2 separate regions of the Homo sapiens genome follow, and region 1 is linked to region 2. Evidence: fine-mapped expression QTL. A gene starts in region 2. The other region holds a variant in brackets. All regions are shown on one strand. Distances are between the middles of the regions. Region 1 overlaps LL0XNC01-250H12.3 (a long non-coding RNA gene). Region 2 holds the start of BEX3 (brain expressed X-linked 3).

Region 1 (16,057 bases), 82 kb before region 2:
TTGCGGTGATAGGGAGCTCTTTTGCAGTTTCCTGATAGTTAAGTCAAAATTCTTTTACTGTACCACTGAAATAATGATGCTGGAATTCTTCGGGGATATATCCATTAAGTAAAATATTTCAACTTTAAAATAAGTATGCATAAATCCATACTGATATAAGTAAATGTTTGGTGAATTAATAAAGAAAAGCATGTGAGAAGACAAACAGTCTTTATGGAATGATTGCAAATAGTATTTGTAGCTACTAACCCTCCAAGAGGTGAAGCTTAATCCTGAATGAAGGTCACACTTAGTGACTCACTTCTCAGGAACATAGTACGTGAATTGAAAAAGTTACTGTACATTGGAAAACTTGGCAAACACGACTTTAACTATGTGATGAAGGTTAACATCACCAGTGAGGTCATGTCATCATGTAAACCCAAATATTATGTGATAAGAAGGGCACTTCAACTCTGTGGTATTCTTTCTGAAATTCCATAATGCTGGTCTAATCATGAGAAAAAGACAACAGATTAAGGCTGTACTCCTCAAGACTGTCAAGGTCAATAAAATATTCTGAGAGTTCCTCATATTGTCAAGCAGAGAACTGCCATATAACCCAGCAACTTTACTCCCAGGTACATACTCAAGAGAAACGGAAACCTATGTCTACATAAAAACTTGCACAAAAAATATATGTAGCATCATAATTCATAATGGCCGAAAACTGGAAACAACTCAAGTGTTCACCAATTGATGAGTGGATAAAAAAATGTGGTATATCAATAAAAAGGAATAAAGTACTGATACATGCTACAAAATAGATAAACCTTAAAAACATTATGTGAAGTGAAAGAAGCCAGACACAAAAGATGAATATTGCATGATTCCACTTCTATGAGATGTCCAGAATAGGTAAATCCACAGAAACACAAAGCATACCTGTGATTCCTGGAGCTGGGGGTGAAAGCAGGGATTAACTGCGTTCAAGTATGATGGGACATTTTATAGTGATGGAAACCTCCAAAACTCAACTACGGTGATGGTTGCACAACTTTTGTTTACTGAAAATCATCAAGTTGTATCCTTAAAACTGCGAATTTCATTGTCTGTAATTATATTGCAAGAAAGCCTTCTGTTGTACCTCAGTAATGACCAAACTTTTTCATATGAAGGCCTTGATGCCCATGTTTTCTATACCCATGAATATATATAAAACCGTAGCTGTATCCCAGCCCTGCTGACTGTGTCCTAAGTAACTCCAAGCAATGGCAGTCTCTCCCTGCCCCACCACCACCACCCCTCACGCTGACTCGGGCTTTGCTTGTATGAAAAATTCGAGTTGCACCTGATCACTTCCACATCTTCTAACTGTGGAAGAAACTGGAGAGTGGGTCCACAACAGCATCCAGGGCCTCCACTCTAACATGACATCAGCATTATTATTTTTTACTCCTCTTGGGATTTTCTCCTGTGACTCCACCTGAGGAATCTAAATGGCATTACCTCTCTGGGTGTCAGTATTGCAATACTTATCAAAGGGCTACATAGGTGCACACCCTTTGCACCAACAATTTACCTTTTAGAAGTTTATCTTCAGGACATTGTGAAGGATGCTGATAAGCATCTGGTTATAAGTACTGTCATTCTGAAAATTCCCTTCCTTTATTTCTGGGCCTGAATTTAGGAAGAAAGACCAACCGGTACACCAAATTATGAAGGGGCAGAAGGAAGCAGAGGGAAATGCTGTGCACACACACAAGCAGTGACAAATACACACACATGTACAGCAACCAGGTTCTGTTATTAGTACTGTAATAACCTCCAAGACAGTTAGTAAGGCTCTAAGAGGACCCATTTGGCTCACCAGTGTAAACAGCTACAGGAACTGTGCCCTTCAGCCATGCACAGACTCTGAAAAGATGTCTTCCACACAGTGTAGATAACAGGGAATATCAGAACACTCTGACTAACACAGGTTTGAGAAAACTGATGTCATATCCATAGGATGGAATTCTAGAATTCAGCAAAACAAGTTTTAATGAAGATAACGATGAGAGGTGATTTGTTGCCTGTAAGATTAGCAATGATTCACATTATTTCTAATGTGTGAAGACACAAGGTCCTTACATACTGTTATGTAAGGAATATAAGTTAGAAATAGTATTTGGATTTCACTATGTTAATATAAAATTTTACAGTTCCCAGGGTTTTGAAAGACCACTTCCAGGAACTTTTTTTTTTTTGACAGAAATGCTTACAAATATATTTGCATATATATGAGGAGGATATTAAGTATACTATTGTTTGTAACAGGAAAAAATGTTAAAGCAACTACATTTTTATGACTGGGATACTAATTAAATGAATTTTTGGGGCACCCACATGATGAACCACCTGGTTGATAAAAAAAAGAGACTACAATTATTTTTGGAAGGAAATTTAAAACATTATTATGGAAACGCATGTGTATGCAAAGATGATCACAATGAGGGCAAATGTGGGTCACAAAGATCACTTAGTGGCCAAGATGCATTTTTGCTTATATAGGTCTATAGCTATTTATCCAGAGGTTTGAAAGCATAAACACAGAAATGATCATTTTGTGCTTTCACATAGCACATAAAGAGGCTACACTTTCTGTCTGGTGGCCGTCAGTATCCCTGTACAGTGGGAATGCCCATTTTTCTACTCACACTTCCAGAAAACTCTGTAGGGTGTGCATGGGCCACAGCACCTCCCTCCCACCTTCCTGCTCAGCGATGTTCAAGCTGCTGCAGTTCAGGCTTCTGTCATGAGGGGGCATCACTGTACCACTATTATCAAACTTCTCTACAAAGTGTAAGCAAGGAGCAGAAAAATACGGTATCCTCCCCTAAAACCCAGTCTATGAAAGGAACTGCAGAATGATTCTGTCTGGAAAAAAAAAACAACCCTGACAGGTGTAAAAAAGAGTGTAAAAACATACTGTGGGACATCCATAGGATGAAACACCAGGTAGGTCTGATGTGCCTTGGCTGTTGCTGGGAGGCAGGATTGGGGGAGCCCAGGGCAGCAGGAAGTGACTGAAAGGATGAGGCGCTGGAGTGGGGTCTGGGCAGATGTGTCCACAATGTCTTGGAGAGGGGGGTCAGTGGGAGGGAGTGGGAGAGAGTCTGAGAAGCCTGTACAGGGTTGGAGTGATGGGTGGTGAACACCCTGCTCTCCAGGAGGGACCCCCCCCTACAGCGTGGACACCTCAACCTACGCTAATGAAGGAAAAAATAAATTACTGAATGCGCTGTAGATTTGGAATCAACAGCAAATTGGCCTGCTTTAATATACAAATGGGTATTCCGAACTATTGGTATCACAGTAAAGAAAAGTTTCATAACATTACTTACTCTGCGAAATTTACCCCTTTTCATTAAGAAAGAGCAAGGAACGTGGAGATAGCTGTAATGCCTCTTGGTGGCCAGAGTCAGGATTGCAACTCTGAGTGTAGACCAGGGGACTCAGCAGCGGGCAGGGAGGGATGAAAGTTGGGAGCTTGATTAATGGGATCAGACATGGTTTTCTGGAACTTTTCACTTACATCCAGCTATCCTTCTGTATCCATCATTTTTTCTGGAATATTAACAGAAGCACTTTTTGTGGGATATCTAAATCTGAGATCAGAAGCCAGTCCTGGTCTGAACTGAAGATAATACTGCAACTGTGAGCTGTACTTGAGGTGGTGGAGCTAGACTAGCTAGAAACACACACACACACACACACACACACACACACACACACACACACACTCCATTCATTTTTTAAAATCTGCTTTGTTTCCCCATAAAATTGGCTACAATGAATGCTTTTCCAAAGCAAAAAAAATATATATATATATATGGAATATATGTGCACATTACTTTTGTCAATCTGATGATAAGTATTTTGTTTTCAATTTTTATTAAAATACTTTTTCCCCCCGAATACAAAATTTCAAACACTATGCAAAAGCACTTCAATACATTTAAATCATCCTGCATCTCTCACTGACCCTACTCCTACCCCCTGGCCCCAAGGGGTCTGTTGTCCCTTAGGATAATGCACGCTCTCCAGACGCATCCCTGTAGGTGACGTGCACACGAACATGTTCGACCCCCAACACACATCATAGTCCTCTCCAAAAGTGCAATCACAGTCCTCATCTTCTTTGACAACCTATCTTTTCCACTTAAGATACCCCTCCCTCTCCCTCCTCCTTCTTCCTCTTCCTCTTCTTCTTCCTCTCTCTCTCTCTCTCCTCTTTTCCCTTCAAAGTTAAAGCTCTAAAAATAGTTTTCTGCATTCCTTGTTAACATTCTTTATTCGCCACTAACCCCCTATCCCACTGCACTATGACTTCCATTGCCAGGATTGTAATGAATGTGATCTTACCAAGGTCACCATTCACCTTTTTGTTACTAGGGCCAGTGTTTGTATACATCTATTAACATACTAAGTATTACTTTAAATGCATTCCTAAAACATGCACGCTTGTGCAGACTGTTTCTTTCACCTAAGAAATCTGTGACAGTTTTCAGGCTCTGAAGCATGACATCCTGGACACAAATCCAAGCTGTCCCACTCCCTAACTGTGTAGTCTCAGGCAAAGTCCTTATTCTCTCTGCCACTCAGTTTCTCATCTATAAAGTGGGAATCAGCAAGGATATCTCTTTTTTTGAACATTACTATTACCTTTATTTATTTTTTCAATTGATATATAATATAGGGTTACATATTTTGGGGGGTACATGTGAAAATTTAACACACTCATATATTTGTAAAGATCATATCAGTATAACTGAGATATCCATCACCTTAACTATTTGTTTTCTTTATGCTAGAAACATCTAAATTATTCTCTTAACTATTTTGAAATACACAACCTGCATTCTTAAAATCTCTAATTTTCACTACAACCAACCTTGGATGACCTAAATTTTAATTAACTTAAGAACATCTCAAAAGCACTTGGAATGACTGATCTCACAAAATAGCACTATCGTTTTTCCACATGGCTGTACAAAAAGCTGAGGGGTCATACTTTATTCTGCCTTATCCCCACATACTTCACACACACAGCTACTACAGGTCTTACCCTCCCTACCTCCAAACACATACTGTCAAGGTCCATTTCTCCCTCTACACATGGCTGCAGCATTGATACCATCAGCTTGCTCCTCCCTAGACTTCCGCAATATTTTCTAATGGTTATTCTCACACACTATCTTCTCCCTCTCTAGTCCATTCTTTGCACAGTGACCAGAGTCACTTTCTGAAAACATGAGTCAGATGATATTGTTCCCATTCTCTAACCCTCCACACTCACAATACAATCCAAACTCCTTACAATGGCTTAAACAATATTGCTCCTATCTGCCCCTTCAACCTCATCTCACCAGTCTGTGCATTGTCTGCCAGGCTCTAGGCACTTGAGCTTTTCCCTGCTCTTGGAACACACGGTGCCCATGCACATTGTATACACACTGGCAAAAAGTCAGTCTGTGCCTAGCTTCTTTTTGTTATCCAGGACTCAGCTCAAATGTCACTTCCTGAAAAGGAGCTTCACTTACAACCCCATCTGTAATTATCTTTATCTTGGTCATTTAATACTCTATATGTGTTAAAACACAAATCCCCATATGAAATTACCCTGCTCATTGATCTGTTTACCTACTTATTACCAGTTTTCTCAAACTAGAAATGATATGTCCGGGGACCATGTTTGTCTTGTTCTCTGTGCTGTTTCCCCGGTGCTTAGATCAATGCTCCACACATAAATCACTGAATGAAAATTACTGAATTAAAGGAACTGGTACCTATTTCACAAAACAGAAATGACACAGATATTAAAAGCAAAGTAGTAGGAGCAACCAATGATGAAATTAGACATGAAAGGATTCAAATTTTTCATAGACCTTGTTGCAAATCCACAGCAGTGCTTTTCAAACATGGATGAGTACCACAACCAATTGGAAAAATTTCTCAAAATATAGATACCTGCCACCACATCTCCCTGTTTTTCATTCAGCTGACTTATGGTAGACCCAAATATCTACTATTTTAACAGGCAATCCATGATGATTTTGATGAAGTAGTCCACGAACCATACTTGGCAAAATTCTGATGAAAACACCTCACATTACTGTGCCATTAATTTAATGCCCACCATGGAGAACTCTAGGACATCTGGATTGTCTCTGTTAAGGTAATTACTCAAAAGTGACTGGTCCTTCCCTCCCACCTAAGATCACAGTTTGCTTTCCCATATGAGTTCATTGTTAATCTCCAGAGTATTCTTGAGTGGTCAGGAAGATTGGGAATTATTATCCTGTTGAATAGATGAGGCTGGTGTAAGGGAAGTGACTCACCTAATATGTCCCAATGATGAGACTTTCATCGCTTCACTCTTGCTCCAGTAGCCTGTCTAGCAGACTCCACATCACATTTGGTTTTTCTCTGTTAGCTCCTAGTTCTAGGGCACAGAGTACACCCCTTCTCTGATGTTACACTAGAAGGGAGATAAGAAAGCACATGGAATAGTGAGGAAAGAAAGAGGACAGGTAAGGAGGTTGTACGTGTGATGATGTTTTGCCTATACCCCATTCAGTTAACTGGAAGCTAAGCAATGAGGTTTTTCCTCTCCCTCAGCTTCATCTCACTGTCCCCACCACCACACAGCAGTGATACTCAAGATTGCACATGACAGGCTGGGCACAGTGGCTCACGCCTGTAATCCCAGCCCTTTGGGAGGCCAAGGTGGGCAGATCACAAGGTCAGGAGACTGAGACCGTCCTGGCTAACATGGTGAAACCCTGTCTCTACTAAAAATACAAAAAAATTAGCCAGGCATGGTGGCATGTGCCTATAATAGTCCCAGCTACTTGGAAGGCTGAGGCAGGAGAATCACTTGAACCCAGGAGGCAGAGGTTGCAGTGAGCCGAGATTGCATCATTGCACTCCAGCCTGGGCACCAAAGCAAGACTCCATCTCAAAAAAAAAAAAAAGATTGCACATAATAAGAAATGATAATAGAAATGTAGACTTAAGTCTTAGCCAAGATGGCCGAATAGGAACAGTTCCAGTCTACAGCTCCCAGCGTGAGCGACGCAGCAGATGGGTGATTTCTGCATTTCCAACTGAGGTACCAGGTTCATCTCACTAGGGAGTGCCAGACAGTGGGTGCAGTGCACCGTGCGTGAGCTGAAGCAGAGCAAAGCATTGCCTCACCCAGGAAGCTCAAGGGGTCAGGGAATTCCCTTTCCTAGTCAAAGAAAGGGGTGACAGAAGGCACCTGGAAAATTGGGTCACTCCCACCCTAATACTGCGCTCTTCCAATGGGCTTAACAAACGGCACACCAGGAGATTATATCCCGCAC[C/A]TAGCTCGAAGGGTCCTATGCCCACGGAGCCTCCCTCATTGCTAGCACAGCAGTCTGAGATCAAACTGCAAGGTGGCAGTGAGGCTGGGGGAGGGGCGCCCGCCATTGCTCAGGCTTGAGTAGGTAAACAAAGCAGCCAGGAAGCTCGAACTGGGTGGAGCCCACCACAGCTCAAGCAGGCCTGCCTGCTTCTGTAGGCTCCACCTCTGGGGGCAGGGCAGACAAACAAAAGACAGCAATAACCTCTGCAGACTTAAATGTCCCTGTCTGACAGCTTTGAAGAGAGTAGTGGTTCTCCCAGCACGCAGCTTGAGATCTGAGAATGGACAGACTGCCTCCTCAAGTGGGTCCCTGACTCCCGAGTAGCCTAACTGGGAGGCAGCCCCCAGTAGGGGCAGACTGACACCTCACACGGCCGGGTACTCCTCTGAGACAAAACTTCCAGAGGAACGATCAGACAGCAACATTTGCTGTTCACCAATATCCACTGTTCTGCAGCCTCCGCTGCTGATACCCAGGCAAACAGGGTCTGGAGTGGACCTCCAGTAAACTCCAACACACCTGCAGCTGAGGGTCCTGACTGTTAGAAGGAAAACTAACAAACAGAAAGGACATCCACACCAAAAACCCATCTGTACATCACCATCATCAAAGACCAAAGGTAGATAAAACCACAAAAATGGGGAAAATACAGAGCAGAAAAACCGGAAACTCTAAAAATCAGAGTGCCTCTCCTCCTCCAAAGGAACACAGCTCCTCACCAGCAACAGAACAAAGCTGGATGGAGAATGACTTTGACGAGTTGAGAGAGGAAGTCTTCAGAAGATCAAACTACTCCAAGCTAAAGGAGGAAGTTTGAACCCATGGCAAAGAAGTTAAAAACCTTGAAAAAAGATTAGATGAATGGCTAACTAGAATAACCAATGCAGAGAAGTCCTTAAAGGACCTGATGGAGCTGAAAACCAGGCACGAGAACTACGTGACAAATGCACAAGCCTCAGTAACGGATGCGATCAACTGGAAGAAAGGGTATCAGCGATGGAAGACGAAATGAATGAAATGAAGCATGAAGAGAAGTTTAGAGAAAAAAGAATAAAAAGAAACGAACAAAGCCTCCAAGAAATATGGGACTATGTGAAAATACCAAATCTACATCTAATTGATGTACCTGAAAGTGACGGGGAGAATGGAACCAAGTTGGAAAACACTCTGCAGGATATTATCCAGGAGAACTTCCCCAATCTAGCAAGGCAGGCCAACATTCAAATTCAGGAAATACAGAGAACACCACAAAGATACTCCTCGAGAAGAGCAATTCCAAGACACATAATTGTCAGATTCATCAAAGTTGAAATGAAGGAAAAAATGTTAAGGGCAACCAGAGAGAAAGGTCGGGTTACCCACAAAGGAAAGCCCATCGGACTAACAGCTGCTCTCTCGGGAGAAACTCTACAAGCCAGAAGAGAGTGGGGCCCAATATTCAACATTCTCAAAGAAAAGAATTTTCAAGCCAGAATTTCATATCCAGCCAAACTAAGCTTCATAAGTGAAGGAGAAATAAAATACTTTACAGACAAGCAAATGCTGAGAGATTTTGTCACCACCAGGCCTGCCCTAAAAGAGCTCCTGAAGGAAGCACTAAACATGGAAAGGAACAACTGGTACCAGCCACTGCAAAAACATACCAAATTGTAAAGACCACTGAGGCTAGGAAGAAACTGCATCAACTAATGAGCAAAATAACCACCTAACATCATAATGACAGGATCAAATTCACACATAACAATACTAACCTTAAATGTAAATGGGCTAAATGCTCCAATTAAAAGGCACAGACTGGCAAATTGGATAAAGAGTCAAGACCCACAGTGTGCTGTACTCAGGAAACCCATCTCACGTGCAGAGACACACATAGGCTCAAAATAAACGGATGGAGGAAGATGTACCAAGCAAACGAAAACAAAAAAAAGCAGGGGTTGCAATCCTAGTCTCTGATAAAACATACTTTAAACCAACAAAGATCAAAAGAGACAAAGAAGGCCATTACATAATGGTAAAGGGATCAATTCAACGAGAAGAACTAACTATCCTAAATATATATGCACCCAATACAGGAGCACCCAGATTCATAAAGCAAGTCCTTAGTGACCTACAAAGAGACTTAGACTCCCACACAATAATAATGGGAGACTTTAACACCTCACTGTCAACATTAGACAGATCAACGAGACAGAAAGTTAACAAGGATATCCAGGAATTGAACTCAGCTCTGCACCAGGCGGACCTAATAGACATCTACAGAACTCTCCACCCCAAATCAACAGAATATACATTCTTCTCAGCACCACACCACACCTATTCCAAAATTGACCACATAGTTGGAAGTAAAGCACTCCTCAGCAAATGGAAAAGAACAGAAATTATAACAGACTGTCTCTCAGACAACAGTGTGATCAAACTAGAACTCAGGATTAAGAAACTCACTCAAAACCACTCAACTACATGGAAACTGAACAACCTGCTCCTGAATGACTACTGGGTACATAACGAAATGAAGGCAGAAATAAAGATGTTCTTTGAAACCAACGAGAACAAAGACACAACATACCAGAATCTCTGGGACACATTCAAAGCAGTGTGTAGAGGGAAATTTATAGCACTAAATGCCCACAAGAGAAAGCAGAAAAGATCTAAAATTGACACCCTAACATCACAATTAAAAGAACTAGAGAAGCAAGAGCAAATACATTCAAAAGCTAGCAGAAGGCAAGAAATAACTAAAATCAGAGCAGAACTGAAGGGGATAGAGACACAAAAAACCCTTCAAAAAATCAATGAATGCAGGAGCTGGTTTTTTGAAAAGATCAACAAAATTGATAGACCGCTAGCAAGACTAATAAACAAGAAAAGAGAGAAGAATCAAATAGATGCAATAAAAAATGATAAAGGGGATATCACCACTGATCCCACAGAAATACAAACTACCATCAGAGAATACTATAAACACCTCTATGCAAATAAACTAGAAAATCTGGAAGAAATGGATAAATTCTTCGACACATACACTCTCCCAAGACTAAACCAGGAAGAAGTTGAATCTCTGAATAGACCAATAACAGGCTCTGAAATTGAGGCAATAATTAATAGCTTACCAACTAAAAAATGTCCAGGACCAGATGGATTCACAGCCGAATTCTACCAGAGGTAAAAGGAGGAGCTGGTACCATTCCTTCCGAAACTATTCCAATCAATAGAAAAAGAGAGAATCCTCCCTAACTCATTTTATGAGGCCAGCGTCATCCTGATACCAAAGCCGGGCAGAGACACAACAAAAAAAGAGAATTTTAGACCAGTATCCCTGATGAACATTGATGCAAAAATCCTCAATAAAATACTGGCAAACCGAATCCAGCAGCACATCAAAATGCTTATCCACCATGATCAAGTGGGCTTCATCCCTGGGATGCAAGGCTGGTTCAACATACGGAAATCAAAAAATGTAATCCACCATATAAACAGAACCAAAGACAAAAACCACATGATTATCTCAACAGATGCAGAAAAGGCCTTTGACAAAATTCAACAATGCTTCATGCTAAAAACTCTCAATAAATTAGGTATTGATGGGATGTATCTCAAGATAATAAGAGCTATTTATGACAAACCCACAGCCAATATCATACTGAATGGCCAAAAACTGGAAGCATTCCCTTTGAAAACTGGCACAAGACAGGGATGCCTTCTCTCACCACTCCTATTCAACATAGTGTTGGAAGTTCTGGCCAGGGCAATCAGGCAGGAGAAAGAAATAAAGGGTATTCGATTAGGAAAAGAGGAAGTCAAATTGTCCCTGTTTGCAGATGACATGATTGTATATCTAGAAAACCCCATTGTCTCAGCCCAAAATCTCCTTAAGCTGATAAGCAACTTCAGCAAAGTCTCAGGATACAAAATCAATGTGCAAAAATCAGAAGCATTCTTATACACCAATAACAGACAAACAGAGAGCCAAATCATGAGTGAACTCCCATTCACAATTGCTTCAAAGAGAATAAAATACCTAGGAATCCAACTTACAAAGGATGTGAAGGACCTCTTCAAGGAGTACGACAAACCACTGCTCAATGAAATAAAAGAGGATATAAACAAATAGAAGAACATTCCATGCTCATGAGTAGGAAGAATCAATATCATGAAAATGGCCATACTGCCCAAGGTAATTTATACATTCAGTGCCATCCCTATCAAGCTACCAATGACTTTCTTCACAGAATTGGAAAAAACTACTTTAAAGTTCATATGGAACCAAAAAAGAGCCTGCATTGCCAAGTCAATCCTAAGCCAAAAGAACAAAGCTGGAGGCATCACGCTACCTGACTTCAAACTATACTACAAGGCTACAGTAACCAAAACAGCATGGTACTGGTACCAAAACAGAGATATAGACCAATGGAACAGAACAGAGCCCTCAGAAATAATGTCACATATCTACAACTATCTGATCTTTGACAAACCCGACAAAAACAAGCAACGGGGAAAGGATTCCCTGTTTAATAAATGGTGCTGGGAAAACTGGCTAGCCATATGTAGAAAGCTGAAACTGGATCCCTTCCTTACACCTTATACAAAAATTAATTCAAGATGGATTAAAGACTTACATGTTAGACCTAAAACCATAAAAACCCTAGAAGAAAACCTAAGCAATACCATTCAGGACATAGGCATGGGCAAGGACTTCATGTCTAAAACACCAAAAGCAATGGCAACAAAAGCCAAAATTGACAAATGGGATCTAATTAAACTAAAGAGCTTCTGCACAGCAAAAGAAACCACCATCACAGTGAACAGGCAACCTACAGAATGGGAGAAAATTTTTGCAAGCTATTCATCTGACAAAGGGCTAATATCCAGAATCTACAATGAACTCAAATGAATTTACACGAAAAAAACAAACAACCCCATCAAAAAGTAGACGAAGGATATGAATAGACACTTCTCAAAAGAAGACATTTATGCAGCCAAAAAACACATGAAAAAATGCTCATCATCACTGGCCATCAGAGAAATGCAAATCAAAACCGCAATGAGATACCATCTCATACCAGTTAGAATGGCGATCATTAAAAAGTCAGGAAACAACAGGTGCTGGAGAGGATGTGGAGAAATAGGAACACTTTTACACTGTTGGTGGGACTGTAAACTAGTTCAACCATTGTGGAAGACGGTGTGGCGATTCCTCAGGGATCTAGAACTAGAAATACCATTTGACCCAGCCATCCCATTACTGGGTATATACCCAAAGGATTATAAATCATGCTGCTATAAAGACACATGCACACGTATGTTTATTGCGGCACTATTCACAATAGCGAAGACTTGGAACCAAGCCAAATGTCCAACAATGATAGACTGGATTAAGAAAATGTGGCACATATACACCATGGAATACTATGCAGCCATAAAAAATGATGAGTTCATGTCCTTTGTAGGGACATGGATGAAGCTGGAAACCATCATTCTCAGCAAACTATCACAAGGACAAAAAACCAAACACCACATGTTCTCACTCATAGGTGGGAATTGAACAATGATAACACATGGACACAGGAAGGGGAACATCACACACCGGAGACTGTTGTGGGGTGGGGGGAGGTGGGAGGGATAGCTTTAGGAGATATACCTAATGCTAAATGACGAGTTAATGGGTGCAGCACACCAACATGGCACATGTATACATATGTAACAAACCTGCACATTGTGCACATGTACCCTAAAACTTAAAGTATAAAAAAAAAAAAAAAAAAAAGAAATGTAGACTTACGCCTGCTTCCTGTCACATTTCCAAGTATTCTCTTTGGTATTCATGATGTGAATTTTAATGTCAGAGGCATCGCACTGACAGAATGAAGGAGGCAAAGTTGGAGTGGGGAACTTACATTTGTTGAAGGCCTACTAGATGCAACACGATATGGGTTGTTATCTTCAGACTTTTTCTCTTCAAATGCTCAAAGCCATGCTCTAAGGTAGACATCATTACTTCCTTTCTACAGATGGGGATATAGTCAGGTTCAGAGAGCAAAGTACATGCTCAAGGAATTTTAGGGAGGTGTTAATTGGACACTGAAGCCAACTTCAAGGTCCTTCCACTGGCCAATTCTGGGACAATTTGAGCATCGAAATTTATAATAATAATAATAGCACAGGGTAATCCTTTCAGAAAAATGAGAATCTCTGAGTCACACTGATATACATACATACATACACAGATAAATAAGAAGAGAAAACTCTGCCCTTTTCTAAATGCCAACTCATAGTTTTGAAAGGAATATCAGAATTTTAAAAACAACACTTCACAACTATCATCGAAATAAGTGACTCAGGCAAAAATCATAAATGGACACTCACTCTACACTAAATCCCATAAGAGTCATGGAGTCACCATGGTAACCAGGCTAGCCAAGGAACACTGGGAAAAAACAAACAACCCCCTATATCTTGTTACCAACATGTGCTAGGAAATGAATAACACTGACGTAATACATAGTAATTTGTCTCAACATCTCATAATACACATTCCTGGCAGCTTCAGCAACACACAAATTGATACATTCACAAATACTCATATAGATGCATTGCCTCTCCCCAGTGCTCTCTCACCATCCAAGATCCCAGGAATTTTTTAAGGTGGGTTTACTGGGGACAAAAAAGTACAACCTCACATTTTAACATATTCAAATATAGCAGAAACATAAAGTTGAAAGCTACTAACCTATATTATTTTAGTCATTGATTTTTCTGGAGATTACCTGTAGAACTGTCAGGGGTACATTTTTATCCCTAGTTTCAGTGTATTGCCAATGATTTCTAAAAGCTGATATAGAAATACATGTACATGCACATTAAGCATCAAATACCTTTTCCATCCTAGAGTAGCCTGTGCTTTTTACCAAGATTCTTCAATAGTCATTATTAATAATCTGGTTGCTGGTGGTTCCATGAAAATGTAATGATTAAGAATTCTATTTAAGAAATAATACCATTGACAGCAGCATCAATAAGTATGAAATATTTATGAATTATCTGTTCGTAGATATGGAACATTTGTACATTGAATACTACAAAACATTGCTGAGAGAAGGAAGACCCAAAGAAGTAAAGGACATACTGTGTTCATGAGTCAGAAGAGTCAGTATTGTTAAGACGTTTATTCCCCACAAACTAATATACAGATTCAGTGCAATCCCAATAAATGTTCTATACATTTTTCAAAGAAATTGGCAAGTGGATATTAAAATCATATACAAATACAGAACACCTAAACTGTGAAAAACAACTGTAAAATGGAACAAAGGTATAGGACAAACACTACCTAATTTCAAAACTCATTATAAACCTACAGTAATCAAGACAGTGTGCTATTGCCATTGAAGGGGAAAAGTAGATCAAAAGGACAGAATAAGGAATCCAGAAGTAAACCTATGCACACACGGACAACTGATTTTTGACAATGATGTAAAGACTATTCAGTGGAAAAGTAAATAGTCTTTTCAACGAATGGTTCTGTAATAAGTAGATATCCATATACATACACAAAAATAAACTGTAATCCATATATCACAACATATACAAAATCAACTCAAACTGAATATGAGACCTAACTATAAAATCCAAATGTATAAACTCCTACAAGAAAAGACAGGAGTAAATCCTTGTGACTGTGAGTAGGTAAACATTTTTTAGATAGGACATCAATAAAAACATCTTAACCCTAAATAAAAAAATTATAAATGGCACTTCCTCAAGGTTAAAAATTTCTGCTCTTCTAAAAGCCACTGTTGAGAGAATGAAAAGATAAGTCAATGACTGGGAAAAAGTATTTGAAGAATCGTATAACTGACAAAGAATTTATATCCAGAATATATAAAATCATTTAAAAGTAAAAAGTAAACAGACACTCCAATAAATAAATGGGAAAATAATAGAAACAGAAACTTTACCAAAGAATATATACAAATGGCAAGTAATCACATGAAAAGATGTTTAACAATAATAGTCATTAAGAAAATGTAGGCCAGGTGCAGTGGCTCATGCCTGTAATCCCAGCACTTTGGGAGGCCGAGGTGGGCAGATCACGAGGTCAGGAGTTTGAGACCAGCCTGGCCAACATGGTGAAACCTTGCCTCTACTAAAAATACAAAAATGAGCCAGGTGCAGTGGTGGGTGCCTGTAATCCCAACTATTCAGGAGGCTGAGGCAGGAGAATTGCTTGAACCCAGGAGGCAGAGGTTGCAGTGAGCTGAGATTATGCCACTGCACTCCAGCCTGGGTGACAGAGCAAGACAATGTCTTGAAAAAAAAAAGTAAATTAAAACTCTAATGAGATATTACTATGCACCCATGAGAATGGCTAAAGTAAAAAAGACTGACCATACCAAGCTTTGGCAAGGTTGTGGAGAATGGAATTCTCATATACTGCTGATGGGAATGAATAAGGAATGGTACTACCACTTTGGAAAACAGTTTGGCAGTTTCTTACAATGTTAATCTCACATCTACCACATGATCCAGCCATTGGACTCCTAGTATTTACCCTAGAGAAAGAAAGCATGTGTACATATAAAGACATTTACACAAATGGTTATGGCAGCTTTATTTAGAAGAACCCCAAACTGAAAACTACCTACTGT
Region 2 (16,057 bases):
CCTTGTTTCCAACTGAATTGACTCTCCCTTAGCTAAGAGAGCCAGACAGACTCCATCTTGGCTCTTTCACTGGCAGCCCCTTCCTCAAGGACTTAACTTGTGCAAGCTGACTCCCAGCACATCCAAGAATGCAATTAACTGATAAAATACTGTGGCAAGCTATATCTGCAGTCCCCAAGAATTCGTCCGATTGATAACACCCAAAGCCCCGCGTCTATCACCTTGTAATAGTCTTAAAGCCCCTGCACCTGGGACTGTTTACTTTCCTGTAACCATTTATCCTTTTAACTTTTTGACTACTTAACTTCTGTAAAATTGTTCTAACTGGACACCCCCCCTTCCTAAACCAAGGTATAAAAATTAATCAAGCCCCTTCCTCGGGGCCGAGAGAATTTTGAACGTTAGCCGTCTCTTGGTCGCCGGCTAAAAAAGGACTCATAATTCGTCTCAAAGTGTGGCATTTTTCTGACTCGCTCGGGTACAACAATTGCCCCAGCTTACTTCCTGAAGAAAGTTTTCAGGCCACAGTGCAAGAAGTAGGAATCCAGGCAAAGCCCTGTGGTATCCCAGAGCTTAGAATAAGAAGTTGGGAGTCCAAGGAGGGCAAGGAAGCTGGAGTTCACAGGGCTGTGTCCCAGAAAGGAAAGAGCTGCACAGAGAAGGAATTCCAGAGATCCATGGAGAGCCACTCTTGAATATTTACCTGAGTACTCTTAAATAATAAACAGGCACATTAAAATTTTGAAGAGTTTATTTGAGCAGAGTTTATTCATGAACAGAACAATGCCAAACTGCAAGTGGTTCAGTGTTCCACCAAGGGGGCATGTGAGGGAAATCTTTTATAAAATGTTTTCTAAAGCAAAGCAAAGAAAAGATTTGATTTGTAAAAGTGAAAGGTTTCTAGTTAGTGGTTAATAGGCAGCTTTTGATTGGTAAAGTCTCTAGTTAGAGGTTAGTTGGCAGTTTTTAATTGGTGATGCTTAAATTTTATTTTCCTAGGCTATGACCATTCACTATGAGTTGGGTTTCAGTTTGCTTCCATAGAAACTCTAGTTTGCTAGAGTCACCTCAGTCTAATGGCCTGCCAAGTATTTTAACTAGTACTGATCATTCTGATCATCACATGTCTGTAGGGAAACTACCCTAGATCAGGAAATGATCTACCGAAAAGGATTAAAGGAAATAATTCCTTAAGTTCACACATGTTTGGGAACAGTGCATGTTCCCACTAGCCAGACTTGGAAACCTCATAATTCATAGGACATCAGATAGAGTACTCAGAAAGAATTTTCCTCATTAGTGGAGAACGATTCACTCTAAACTAAACACAACACTGATCCTTTCTTACAAAGTTTTAAAGCAAGAATCTAAAATACCAAACTTTACAAATAACTGTTTTCCAGAATAAAAATCAATATAATTCCAGGGATACGAAAATATCCAGCACTCAATAGGTGAAACTTACAATGTCTGACATCCAATCAAGAGCCTACAAAGAAACAGGAAAATAAAACCCATCATGAGAGAAAAAGCAACCAATCAAAACTGACCCAGAAGTGACAACAATGGTAGAATTAGATAAGGACATAAAAGCAGATAATTAGAACTTCATTGCATATGGTCAAGAAGCTAGAGGAAAGAGTGAATAAGTTAAGTAGAGACATGGAATATAAAAAATATTTAAAAGGCTCAAATTAAACATCTAGAGATAAAAACTACAATGTCTGAAATGAAAAAATATACTAAATGAAGTTAATGGCAGATTACACATTGTAGACGAATAGTATACCTGAAGACATAGCAAAAGAAACCATTTGAAATGAAACACAGAGAGAAAAGACTGAAAAATTAACAGAGCATTAATTGTGGTTGTGTGACAACCATATTGATAGTCACTTGAAGTGGAAATTGTCTTAGCCCTCTAATTACATGACAGAGATTGTCAGAGTGGATAAAAAAAAACAAGACTCGGCCCCTAATATCCTATAACCACAAATATAAGCTGAGCAAAAGGCCTCTTTTGCTAAAAATATAAAACATACCATGGTCCAAGCATCACTAAGACAGTACCCAACAAAGCTAGTACAACTGTAATTCAAGTAGGTCTTTATGCACACCTCTGTAGGATATAAACTGGGACATTAGCACATTGAGGTGTCTAGAGAAATCTGTAGTGATCAAGGCCAGTGGAGAGTGCAGAACTGGGAGAAGTGGGTGGGTCATCATAGCTGAGGGATGGAGTGGGACTGTGACATAGTTTGGCTACTACTCCCAGCAGCTGAAGGGGATCTGAGGTACTTGGATTCTGAATGTGCAGGTGAAAACATGAAGTCATCCAACACCATTCACTCACATGCTCTTTATCTCCTTTGGGTCCCACAGCAGCCCTGGAAATTATCATCTCCATTTTACCAATGTATGGTAAACACTAATGCATTACCATGGCAATAACTACTAAGTTTACATAATCAGCGAAAGGATCCAGAACTAGTTTGAAATTCATTATTCTTTTTCAACAAATTTTCCACCCTTTTAATGACTGACACATTAGTTTGCTTCCTCTTTTAAAAATCAAATTTTAATTACAAACTAAGTAATATGTATTAATTTAGGGAAAAAATAGACAACAACTTAAAATTAATTGATACTCATGTGATCTTAGGAAAAGAAACAAGATGTTGAAGAAAATATTTTAAAACTTTCTTAATACAGTTTGTCTTCTGCTCAAAGCAACAACAAAAACCACTTTAGAATGCATTACTTTACAATCAGAAACACAAAGTTCATTTGTGTGAAAACAAATTTTTTTTTTTTTGAGACGGAGTCTTGCTCTGTTGCCCAGGCTGGAGTGCAGTGGCACCATCTCGGCTCACTGCAAGCTCCGCCTCCCAGGTTCATGCCATTCTCCTGCCTGAGCCTCCCGAATAGCTGGGACTACAGGCGCCCGCCACCACACCCGGCTAATTTTTTGTATTTTTAGTAGAGACGGGGTTTCACCGTGTTAGCCAGGATGGTCTCGATCTCCTGACCTCGTGATCCGCCTGCCTCAGCCTCCCAAAGTGCTGGGATTACAGGCGTGAGCCACCACACCTGGCCAAAAATGATTTTTTTAAATGGGCATACATCTGAAGATTTCTCTCTTCATATGAAACTCAGCAAAGTTTATTTTTATTAAATTGGAAATATTTTCCAACAGAGTAAATTTCTAAACATGCTAATTGTGACTTTTCAAATGTCTGGCAAAAATTTTTTAAAAATTAGATTTTCAAGTTTATAGGGATGCCTTATTTATTGGGTTATGTATAGTTATATCACTTAGAAAGCATTCCAGCTGGTTACACATGAAATATTGACTACATAACATGCTATCTTTCTGAAATTTAAAAACTGGACTTTTCCAAACAAAATCAGTATATTTACTACATAATACATGTGATGTCAGGAAAGGAGACAGAGTAGACGTGGAATTTTGTCCATTTCATTTATAAAACTCAAAACTTTTTCTACTTCTAAGACAATTTTTAAGTTTCGTAAATAAATAGTTCTGTTCTAGTAAATAAATATATTTACTTTATATTTCTAAATTTGCCAAAATACATTTCAAAATTGAACTAGTTTCAGTCCCACCAACAGTGTAAAAGTGTTCCTATTTCTCCACATCCTCTCCAGCACCTGTTGTTTCCTGACTTTTTAATGATCGCCATTCTAACTGGTGTGAGATGGTATCTCATTGTGGTTTTGATTTGCATTTCTCTGATGGCCAGTGATGGTGAGCATTTTTTCATGTGTTGTTTGGCTGCATAAATGTCTTCTTTTGAGAAGTGCCTGTTCATGTCCTTCGCCCACTTTTTGATGGGGTTGTTTGTTTTTTTCTTGTAAATTTGTTTGAGTTCATTGTAGATTCTGGATATTAGCCCTTTGTCAGATGAGTAGGTTGTGAAAATTTTCTCCCATTTTGTAGGTTGCCTGTTCACTCAGGGATCTAGAACTAGAAATACCATTTGACCCAGCCATCCCATTACTGGGTATATACCCAAAGGACTATAAATCATGCAGCTATAAAGACACATGCACACGTATGTTTATTGCGGCACTATTCACAATAGCAAAGACTTGGAACCAACCCAAATGTCCAACAATGATAGACTGGATTAAGAAAATGTGGCACATATACACCATGGAATACCATGCAGCCATCAAAAATGATAAGTTCATGTCCTTTGTAGGGACATGGATGAAATTGGAAATCATCATTCTCAGTAAACTATCGCAAGAACAAAAAACCAAACACCGCATATTCTCACTCATAGGTGGGAACTGAACAATGAGAACACATGGACACAGGAAGGGGAACATCACACTCTGGGGACTGTTGTGGGGTGGGGGGAGAGGGGAGGGATAGCATTGGGAGATATACCTAATGCTAGATGACGAGTTAGTGGGTGCAGCGCACCAGCATGGCACATGTATACATATGTAACTAACCTGCACATTGTGCACATGTACCCTAAAACTTAAAGTATAATAATAATAAAATAAAATAAATAAAATAAAATAAAAAAAGAAAGTAATCACTAAGGATTTAAAGGAAAAGGAATTGATTTTTTTTAATGCAGACATGATGAGAACTTTATAAGACAAACATTGTTGTAGTTTTTCAAGATAGAAAAAAATACATTTCAAAATTGGACATTAGATCACTGTGAGTGGACTTCTGAAATGTGATGGCTTGAGTTTTGAAAATCAGGAGCTAACTGAAAGCTGATCAAATGAGTCAATCAGCTTTGATAAGTGGAGAGGAGAGATTAGAAAAATAGTAACAAACATGGCAAGCTAAACATATTTCTTTGGCAGGGGCTTTGAAAGAGGCAGTGTTCCTCATAAGAGGCTCTAAGCCTAGCTTTGTCATGATAAAATATAAGATGAAGATTTAAAAACTTACAAATGGTATCTTTGGATGACTGGATTACGGTTTTGTTTATATTCTCCCTATATTCATGATCCAAATATGTATGATGACATTATATAAATAATTATAAGAAGTACTAACATTTTAAAATGTTCTTTATAGAAATTTCAAAATACGAAAGCATTAAAAAAAACTCCACAGGCTCAAAAATGTTGTTATATATTGTTTTAGATAAACTACAATCCTGAAATAATTTAATAATTAATTAGTAAATGAATTATTATGTTATGAAACATCTACTATATTAGGCACTGTGCTAGAAACTGAGCTCCAGGGAGACTAAAACAAAATCATTGTTGTGAAAGGGCACAGGTTGGCACAGAAATGATAATGCATAATTTATTTAATAATTTCATAATTATTACATTTATTATTAATAATAAATTCATGATAAAGCATTAGTTTAATAGGATATTTGAAAAGAAGATAAAACAGTACTGGTTTAAGTATAAACATACATTGATGGCCTAATGTCTAATTTTGGAATGCTGTACTTTGGAAACGTATATGCATTGTGGAATCAAGTAAGTAAGGTAATTTGGATCACGAAATTTGTAAAATGGTGTAATTACTGTCAGTGTTTCTCTATGCCTATGTTGTCAAAACTCAGATGCATGAGAATCACTTGGGAAACTGTCAAAATAGTAATTCCTGATTCTGGTGATTCAGGTGGTCACAGTGGCTGGTTGGGGGTGGGACGAGCACCCAACTGTCAACATTTTTAACACTTTCCCTAGGTAATTATGATGCACGTAAGGCGTCTATGTTTCCCTAAACACTAACATATACAAGGTTTAAAAAAAAGTTTACAGAATTTGAGTTAGAAACTTTCCTTGCTATGTTCCTTTGGAAATAATATAATGCTTTCCACATAACTAGTTACTTGCCTTTGGCCCCTTAGTTAAGGATAGTGAGTTAGGGACAGTTTTGAGCTGGATTTCTAACTCTTAGTTAATTAATCAATCAAAATAATTAATAATTTAATATCTACTATGTCGGGCACTATACCAGAAACTGTCTGGAGAAAAGGGCACACACTCACAAAGAAATAACAATGCCAAATACTTAATATAGTTTTTAAGAACTTACAGAGTAGTTTCATGGTTCAGGTATGGACAAGAAGGGAGTGTGTTTCCGCTTTAAAGAAAATTTGTTCTCCCAATGTAATTTACATGTCTAGGTAAGTCTGTTAAACTGGGTGGGCAGGCCTGCCAAGAGTCTCCTTTGAGAAAATCCGTATCAAGGATAGAAACACAGGCACAAATAAAGCCTTCAGCCTGTTTGTATTGTGGAGGTTTGCAGTAATGCAATTCAGGGCACACTCAGATGCATTTTCTCAGTTAGGCCGCAGTGCACTCTTGTCTGAGTTATTTGAAGGAGTTATGAAAGAAAACCAGAAAGGGCTATTTTTCTAAGAACCAATGTAATCCCAAGAACCACAAGAGTTGTACTCACCAGGATAAATATAACTCTCAAGTTATAAAGACATTCTCCACAATTCTATAGAGGTCAAAGGGGGATTTGGCTCACCAGAGACTCCAGAGAAATCAGTGGGGCTTGTTACCTTGAAGACCCTAGCACCTCATCAACAGCAACAGAAATAGGATCCAGCAGAAGGGAAAGTGTGGCCAATCAAGAAGGCAGTAATCAGGGGAGCAGGAGGATTGCAAATAACAAGAATGATATGGGGGAACCCACCTATTTTCACTGTCTGGACTTGTAAACATGAGTGATAATTCCTCCAGTCCTAAGTACCTGATGGGGGTCCCGGTCCTGTTAAATGTTGGGGAGTTGGGGACAGAAGCCAGCCCAACACAGTTCCACATTTCATCAGTTCCACTCAGCAGCCCTGTAAGACAAGCATTGTTCCCCATTTCACAGAGCAGAAAACGGGCTCTTTAAAGGAATGCATCTGTAATAAAGGGAAGGTTTATTATTCCAGTTAAGACTGAAGGATAGTTAGAGTTTACTCTTCAAATTTGTTGAGCCAGTATTGTTACGTATCTGCACTACATTCATAATCTCATTGAAAAATAATTTTCATTGCTTCTCAAACTCCAGATAATAAAAGGAAAAAAATGTCACATATTACTTTTTTTTTTTTGAGACTGTCTGGCTCTGTCGTCCAGGCTGGAGTGCAGTGGCGTGATCTCGGCTCACTGCAACCTCCGCCTTCCGGGTTCAAGCCATTCTCCTGCCTCAGCCTCCCGAGTAGCTGGGATTACAGGCGTGTGCCATCACGACCGGCTAATTTTTTGTATTTTTTTTTCAGTAGAGACAGGGTTTCACCGTGTTAGCCAGGATGGTCTCGATCTCCTGACCTCGTGATCTGCCTACCTTAGCCTCCCAAAGTGCTGGGATTAGTTAACACACAGAAATGTTCACCAATTAACACTCTAGTGTATTTAATCTCAGATTTTTTTTTAGTTCATCTGTTATATGTAAGTATACATTTTTAATGAGACAATAAATGTATAGATTGCTTTTTAAATTGCTTTATTAGCTTTAAATTTTTCCATGCAAATGGGTGAAACTACTGCTGACAGAAACTTACACTGAGTGCAAAGGCAATCTTCAAATAGAAGCTGGCAACACAAGACCCACTTGACACATGGAAATAACATAGGGTTCACAGCAAACGGATCAGTAAAGGCATATTAGGAAAATGCAAGGAAAAAGAAAACAGCGGGAATCACAGTATTAATCTCATGATAAATGGCAGGAGTCAAGGCATAAGGCAAAATTCATCATGATGGTCATGGTGATTAGAGAGCTCCCCCATAAGGATACGCAGACAATTCCTCAACTGCAGCTCCCTAAGTTTTCTTCTGATTTCTCTCATCTCCTCCATGAATATTTCCATATCATCTCCATCTCCACCCATCCCATCATTGATCTGCCTATTGGGTATGGCCCATCGAAAATTAGGGGCAAGTCGGCGAGCCTGTCCCCGTCGATTTCCTGCAGGCTGGTGGCCTTCACCTCCTCCCAAAGGGCGGTCTTCCTCTCCATTCTGCATAGGCTGCTCCATCTCTTCGTTTTCCTGGTGAATATTTGCCATGATGAGATTTTTTTTTTCTGGTTGTTTTTCTTTGAACACAAGTAAGACAAAGGCAAGGAGAGAGACTGAATGCTTGGTGCTCTGACCAGCAGGATTCAGAGCCCTGATATCAAAGGATTTTTTAATTTCGTTTTTTCCCACCTTAGAAGTTCCGCGCGTCCTCTACGGGGCCTCCAATTAAAGCCCCTCCCTCCAGCTTTCTCCCCTTACCTCCCTTCCCCCAAACCCACCATTTTTCGTTTCCCGGGATTCTTTCCCAGAGCTTTGCAGGCACCAAAATGGAGGACCGGTATAGGAGTGGGGGATGGGGTGGAGGGGGTTGGGGTCTCAGACTGGGCTTTCCTTACGTTCCGACCCCCGCCCCACCACCGTCCCTCGCACCGACCTGGGCCTATCCTTGCAGTCTCCTTCTCCTCCGGATTCTCGCCGCGAGGTGCGCCGCGGAGACACTTAGCCTCGCAGACCTGCAGTCGAGCCGGGGTGGGGGTTGTGGGGGGTGGGGGCTGCTGCAGCGGAACGCTAGCGAAGACCCGCCGCCGCCCGGCCCTTTCCGTGCTCCGAGCCCGGGCTCCCCTCGCTGCCAGCGCCCCGCGTCTCCCGCCCCCCACCCCCACCCCACCCTCGAACGCCCAGCCCCCCGCGGTGTTCGCTGTTTTCCTGCAGGGACTCGGGGGTGGGTTTCCATCGCTCTTGGTGGCTCTGCCGCCCCTGGAAACCCAGCCGCCCCTGCTTCCCCATCCCTGGGGGCCTCTGTGTTCCCAAGCATGTTGGGGTGTGGAGAAAGCTGGCGGGGACCCCCTGCGCTGTTCTGCGCCTGTCGCCGAGGTCGGTCAGCCGCTGCTGGCATGGCCGGGGCTCACGGGCCCCGGAGCCCTTACCTGCTCCGCTTTTCCCCGGGCCGAATGCCAGCCCGCCGAGCTCAGGGCAGCGGGGAGCTGGTAGCCAGACGCGAGTGACGACTGCACCGAAGGCTGCGTCGCTCTGCAGCTCTGGGTCACGTGAGGGCCGCGCGTCACCACCGAGCTCGCCCCCCAACTTGGGCGGCCAGTGCAGCAGGATCTCCCCCTTCCCCCCACCCGCCACCGCCATATGCACGCGCAAAAAACAGCCTCCCTACTCCCGTCTGCATGAGGTGCCCCAGAGCGCACAGCCCTGTCACTCTTCTCGGTCCTCTCCAATCTGAGGGCCCACAAGTGGCATCACTGCTCTGCGGTTGGAGTTTGCCCTCCTCTGGTTACCAGGGAGGGTCTGCATCATCCTCCACCACTGCCCCCTCTCACTTCAGGCCTTGGCTTTGGCCTTTTCTGCTTTCTCTCCTTTTCTACCTGGCAACATGCTTTGCGCTGCACTCCCACTTCTACCCCTTGCGTGTGCACAGCCATCAATGCCCACGTAGCCCCTGAATTCCTACCCTTCTAGAAAATTTAGAGTGAGGGCTAAGGTGGGGAGGCAGGAGGGCATTTGTCAGAAAGCGGGGCAAGGAAGTGGAGTGGACTGTATATATTTCTTTTTATTTCCTTAAAAAATCTGCATGCTTCAGAAAATTATAAATTATAAGTTTTTAATTTTGAAAGAAATGCTGGTTGGGCGCGGTGGCGTACCTGTAATCCCAGCACTTTGGGAGGCCGAGGCGGGTGGATCACTTGAGGCCAGTAGTGTGAGACCAGCCTGGCCAACATGGTGAGACCCCATCTCTACTAAAAATACAAAAATTAGCTGGGCGTGGTGGCGTGCGCCTGTAATCCCAGCTACTCGGGGGGCTGAGGCAGGAGAATCGCTTGAACCTGGGAGGCGGAGGTTGCAGTGAGCCGGGATCGCACCACTGCACTCCAGCCTGGGCGACAGAGCAAGACCCTGTCAAAAAAAAAAAAAAAAAAAAAAAAAAAAAAGGAAATGCTTTATCCTGCACAATGAAATCTCTCATTGTTTATGTTGACCTGTACCACACAAAATATTTTTTCTGGGCTCCACACAACATCAAGCCATTACTTTTGATACATACTAGCTCGTTTAAAATTTTATTTTTGGCCGGGCATGGTGGCTCACGCCTGTAATCCCAGCACTTTGGGAGGCCGAGGCGGGCGGATCACGAGGTCAGGAGATCGAGACCATCCTGGCTAATACGGTGAAACTCCGTCTCTACTAAAAATACAAAAAAATTAGCCAGGCGTGGTGGCACGTGCCTGTAGTCCCAGCTACTCGGGAGGCTGAGGCAGGAGAATCGTTGAACCCGGGAGGCAGAGGTTGCAGTGAGCCGCGTCGCACCACTGCACTTCAGTCTAGGCGGCAGAGCGAGACTCCGTCTCCAAAAAAAAAAAAAAGAAAAGAAAAAAATATATAAAAAGGCGGGACTCTTTCTTTTTCTTTTTTTTTTTTCCCCCGAGACGGAGTCTCGCTCTGTCGCCCAGGCTGGAGTCAGTGGCGCGATCTCGGCTCACTGCAAGCTCCGCCTCCAGGGTTCATGCCATTCTCCTGCTTCAGCCTCCGGAGTAGCTGGGACTACAGGCGCCTGAAAGGCGGGACTCTTTCTGAACACAGTTGGTGTTTTCGAAATGATCTGTAAAGTGAATCTTCAGGGAGCAGTCTGGTCGTCAGATCTTCACCATTTTATGTAACTTTGATGTTTTTGATATCACAGTCATCAGAGAAAGGGAGTCTTTTATTCCCTGCTTTCCTTTCCAAACCTTTCAAACCATCCCTACAAATATCTTCTTAGTATGAGCTCAGAAGTTAAGTACATATTATGCAGAAAGTAGTTTCAAAACCATCTACCCTTTGGTGCGAATGTTTCAAAATATATTAGAAATAAGCAGGGGGTGTGTGAAACAACTTAACTTGAGACTGAACCTTATCCTGAGTGCAAATGTTCCTTTCTCCAACTTGAAATCATTTTTAAAAAAATTATCACAGCTAGAAAATAGAGATGTCTTTAGAAAAGTGGCATTGTTATAAAAAATATTTGATATCTGTTGTTTATGATAAGGAACCAAAAGCATTAAATGCAGCACTGAGGCAAGACAAGCCAGACAAATGCTTACTAACTCTAGTTTTGGCCCCAAACTCCTGTAGAATTTCCTACCCTGCTAAACCAGATGACACAGTGAATAAAGGAAGAGTATATGCCCAGTGTGTATGTAGTTAGACGTTTTGGAGATATGTATTCCATATAAAATTACATATATATTCTTCTAGAGGTATATGGATATATTAGTACATAGCTCCAAAACATCAAATTATAAAATCACACTCAATATTTGTCTTTTAAAGAAATGTTAGTGATTCCTGGATTCTGTCTCACAGTTAAGAACTTTTTATACAGATTGCTATATTAATGATATCAGCTGGAATGATGCAGTTTCAAAGCATGAACAGTAGTATCAGACAAGTCTGGCTTCAAATTCAGTCAGCTGTTTACTTGATGTTCAACTTTGGATCAATTACTTATCAAGGTCTGTGTGCTTCCTCTGTGAAACAAGGATTGTTAGAATTACACATAACAATAATTTACTACATAGCCTAGTAAATCATCAATTTTTGTTGACATTATTTTTATTGTTATTCGATGGTTTCTAACATGATTTAAAGAGTAGCAGAGTATGATTCTTTCCTTAGCTAGACCCACTTGTTCTTAAAATCCATGAGGGCCCAAAACATGCTTGCTGTGTTCTATTTTGTGTACCCAGTGACTAATAGTGTTCCTTGCACCAAGTAGGTGATTACTGAATACTTGTTGAATGAATGTATCCAGTACTGAGGCGAATAGGTTGTTTTTCATTCTGGGGACTGTATTTAGAGCAATACGGAAAAGCTTTTATGAAAATTAAGAATTACCTAGAAAAAAATCTCCTGAAAGCTGAGAAGCCACTGTGATGTGACTATTGGATATGAAGTTTAGCAAGTGGATTTTTATTTCTTTTGGTGGCTAAATGCTTTGCTGTTTTCCTTTTCACCCATCTTGGATAAATCCTGTGTTCAAAACCATCAAATTTCCTTGGATGAAAACAGACATTTGTTTGTAACATCCAGATTGGATATTATGCTATATTGATTAGTTGTAATAAAGTAATGTTTTAAAGATAGGTGAAAATTATCCGGGAAATGCTGTTATCTTTACTAAAATGTTGTGAATAGGAGTTGATTGAGATGTTTTCTTGACCCTGAAGTTTTCTGAGGAGTTGGAAATAGACAGCACACTGTTGAGAACAAAAACAAATTTTTTCAAGGCCAAGTTAGAAGGACACTATATTCTGCATTTGGGATTCATGTGTCCCAAAAGGCAGAGAGAAGGTGAACTGATTAGATGGTTCTTATCCCCACACACACGTTTTACACATGTTTCAAGCCCAGGAGCCTCAATTCTAATCTGCCCTGGAGGCACCAGGAGGACTCAGAATGAAAAGTGAGATTGGCATTTGAAAATGAATAGAACCAAATCTTTAGTCTGACTGAAACTATTTTAATAAGCAGTAGTGACTGAAAAGTTGGAGAACTGGACAGAAATGTAGTTAAAGAAGCCCATTGCCCCATGCGAAGTGGGGGAGGGAGTGATAGAAAGAACACTGCTGATACAGCTATTGGAAAAATAAAACTGTTTCATGATTTGACCTCAACTAGTGAAGATCCCTCTATTGTATTAGTATCCCATCAGTGGAAGCTCGTTTTTGCTGAAATCTTTATGTGTATTGCCATGACATGGCTCACATGTACTTGTCTGAAATGCACCTGGTTGGACTGTGGTTATTGTCCTGTTTTCCTCTCATTATCTCTCCTGTGTAAATGCTAGGCTTGGGAGAAGGTAGTCTGAGCCCTAGTGGGCCCTGTGGGTATGAGTATCTCTGTTCCTGCCTAGAATAGGTTCTCTATGTACCTCTCTGATGCTTTACTGATACTTTTTTATTGTGATTCTCTCTTTCTCTCTAAATTTAAGCACCGATTACAGACTGAAACTAGGTGTTAAGAATATAGGAAATTATGCCTACTCCAGCTTTCCTCTAAGCTATGGCCATTATAACTTTGATGCCAAGATTTCCAAAATGTGGAATGAATCTGATGAAATTTTAAGGGTGTCACTGTAAGAGTTTCAATGATTTGGGAGATAATATATTTAATTCAAGAGATCTAGTCTGAAAAAATAAAAGGGCTATGAGACTAAGATGTCTGAACGTGAAAGCAGCAAATATTCAGCACCTCATTATCTATTGGGGAACTGAGGGGTATTCTTTTCTTTATTTCATGGATTGCAGATAATATCTTGAGACACCGGAGACCCGTGGCCACTCTTTCCTGTTGTTTAGGACTCTGGTGGAAAAGGAGCTCTGCCCTATGCAGTCTCCTAAACTGATGACATTAGCTGGACTATGTGTAGGCCAAGAGAACTCCTTTGGCCCTTCTAGCTTTAGGCTGAGGTGAGCACCTTTCTTACTTTTCCCAGGACTTAGGGATGAACTTTGAGGAGTAACAAAACTCATGCATAAACGTTCATGAAGTCACTTTATCTTATTTCACTGTTACTACTCCCATGTAAGTTCCATTGCTAGTATACAGTGCAACAAGGGGAACCTGATTTTTTTTTTTTTTTTGAGACGGAGTCTCGCTCTGTCGCCCAGGCTGGAGTGCAGTGGCACAATCTCAGCTCACTGCCACCTCCGCCTCCTGGGTTCACACCATTCTCCTGCCTCAGCCTCCCGAGTAGCTAGGACTACAGGCGCCTGCCACCATGCCCGGCTAATTTTTTATATTTTTTAGTAGAGACGGGGTTTCACCGTGTTAGCCAGGATGGTCTCGATCTCCTGATCTTGTGATCCACCCGCCTTGGCCTCCCAGAGTGCTGGGATTACAGGCGTGAGCCACCGCGCCTGGCCAGGGAACCTGATTTTTCACACAAATTTAAAAGACAGAGAAGAAACAGGAGAAATATATTTATACCATATGTGCTATGGGTTGAATTGTATCCCCCCAAGATATATATTGAAGTCCTAAGCCTTATAACCTCTGATTGTGACCTTGTTTGGAAACAGAGCCTTTGAAAATATATTCAAATTAAGGTGATGTCATTAAGCTGGGCCCTAATACAATATGACTGGTGTCCTTATAAGAAGAGGAAAACCAATCCAAGGACAGAGGCAGAGATTACAGTGATGCAGCTTCAAGCCAAAGAATGCCAAGGGTTGACAACCATGACTAAAAGCTAGGAAGAGGCAAGAAAAGAATCTACCCAGAGTCTCTGAGGAAACATGGCTCTGCTGACTCCTTGATTTTGAAATTCTAGCTTCCAGAGCCATGAAAGGACACATTTTTGTTGTTTTAAGCCACCCAGTTTGTGATACTTTGTTACAGCCATCCTAGGAAACCAACAATATGTGAAAGAAAAAGAAAGTTAACATCCATTATATTTAAAGAGCTCTTACAAATTAATAAGAAAAAAATGAACATACCAATGGGAAAATGAGCAATGGATATGAATAAGTAGTTTACAAAAGAAACAAACATGGCCAATAAAAAAATTTATTATTTTAACAAATAATAGTTGAGCATTTATCATGTGCAAATTGCTGTTTTAGGTACTAAGGATGCAGGAGGAAACAGCGTAGACAAGGGCCCTGTTGTCAAAGACCTTCCATTATATTGGATAATGTTGGGGCTTAGAAACTGATACCCCAAGATATGGTGCTTTGACATGCTGAACTGAAGAGGAACCTCAAGGTCCGTCTGACCTTTCCCACACACTTCTTCACTCTCAATCCTGTCTCTCACAAAGCACAGGATGAAGTTGTTTTCTGAAGTTCCCTTATTTATCTAAAGTCCAGACTCATTAAAGAAGAAAACAATTATCTCTAGTCCCTTCCCTGAGCTTTCATTAACTACACTCATATCTCAGGAAGAAAGACTGAAGTCTGTCAACATGCCTAGACAGACTTTTGTCACAAGCCATTGTCTGCTTTGGATACCCAACAGACTATGTCCCAGGTCATTGTATGTTCTTCAAGCCCATTGAAATAGGATAATAAAATAAACTGTGAGGCCAGAAAAATGGATTAGTAGGCTTATAGAACAGTGGATTTTATAGCTGTGTTTTCTATGCCTTTGCCTAATTTTGGATTTATAGGGTAGGTTTTATGATCTCAAGTACTAGGCCTTCACAGATTGTGTACTATGAAAACCAAAACAACCTTAGAAATATTTTAGTACAAGGGTCCTATTATTCAAATTGAGAAACTGAGACCCAGAAAAATTAAGGGGCTTGCTCAGGTTTCCAAGAGGGTAGTAGTAGAACTAGATGTAGAGATAGCTTTGTTAGATCTACTAACTCCCAGGAAAGAAATCTTTTTCTTTTTCACTTGTTTTCTTAGTGTCTTAGTCAGTTTGGGCTGCTATAACAAAATAGCAGCTGAGTGGTTTAAACAACAAACATTTACTTCTCACAGTTCTGGTGCAAGATCAAGATGTCAGTAGATCCGATGTCTGATGAGGACCCACTTTCTGGTTTGCAGATGGTGATTTTCTCTGTAACATCACATAGTGGAAAGCAGAAAGAGGGGAAGCAAACTCTCTCATGTCTCTTCTTATAGGAGCACTAATCCCATTCATGAGGGCTCCACTCTCATGATCTAATTCCACAGACTCCACCTCCAAATACCATCACACTGGGTATTAAGCTTCAACATATGAAGTTTGGGGGGACACAAACATTCAGTCCATAGAACTTGGCCTATTTTATTTATTTATTTACCTTCTAGGATTATACATATTGTGCATAAACATCTAAGGAAATATTTGAATATTTTATCTATGATTGCCACCTGTCAATCTTAGTCTTCTGTCCCTCCTCTTATATCTTAGAAGAGGGCTTATGACAGTTTCAATCAATAGGGTAGAAGAGAGTAGAACTGATACTATGTGAGTTACAAGGCCAAATCATAAAAGACCATACAGCTTCACCCCTATTTACAGGAAACATTTGTTTTTGAAGCCCTGAGATGGCCATGTTGGATATGCTACATGTGAACCCTCTAGTTGACAGACCCAGA

Evidence for each region.
Region 1: its variant is fine-mapped to the expression of BEX3 in whole blood (TOPMed, PIP 0.97).

The regions. Positions count from the first base shown.
Region 1 is chrX:103,451,660-103,467,716 of GRCh38, reverse strand. It overlaps LL0XNC01-250H12.3 (a long non-coding RNA gene), which reads right to left. Exons shown (of 6, transcript NR_188440.1): 4 at 6,363-6,502. Among named protein-coding and RNA genes, the nearest start is that of LL0XNC01-250H12.3, 55 kb to the right of the region's middle. RefSeq lists enhancers at 2,664-2,733, 2,934-3,083, 7,041-7,540. The variant C/A (reference allele first, on the strand shown) is at 7,371.
Region 2 is chrX:103,369,465-103,385,521 of GRCh38, reverse strand. BEX3 (brain expressed X-linked 3) reads right to left here and starts at 8,984. Exons shown (of 3, transcript NM_206917.3): 1 at 8,909-8,984; 2 at 8,416-8,494; 3 at 7,358-8,012. The coding sequence starts at 8,000. The coding sequence ends at 7,695.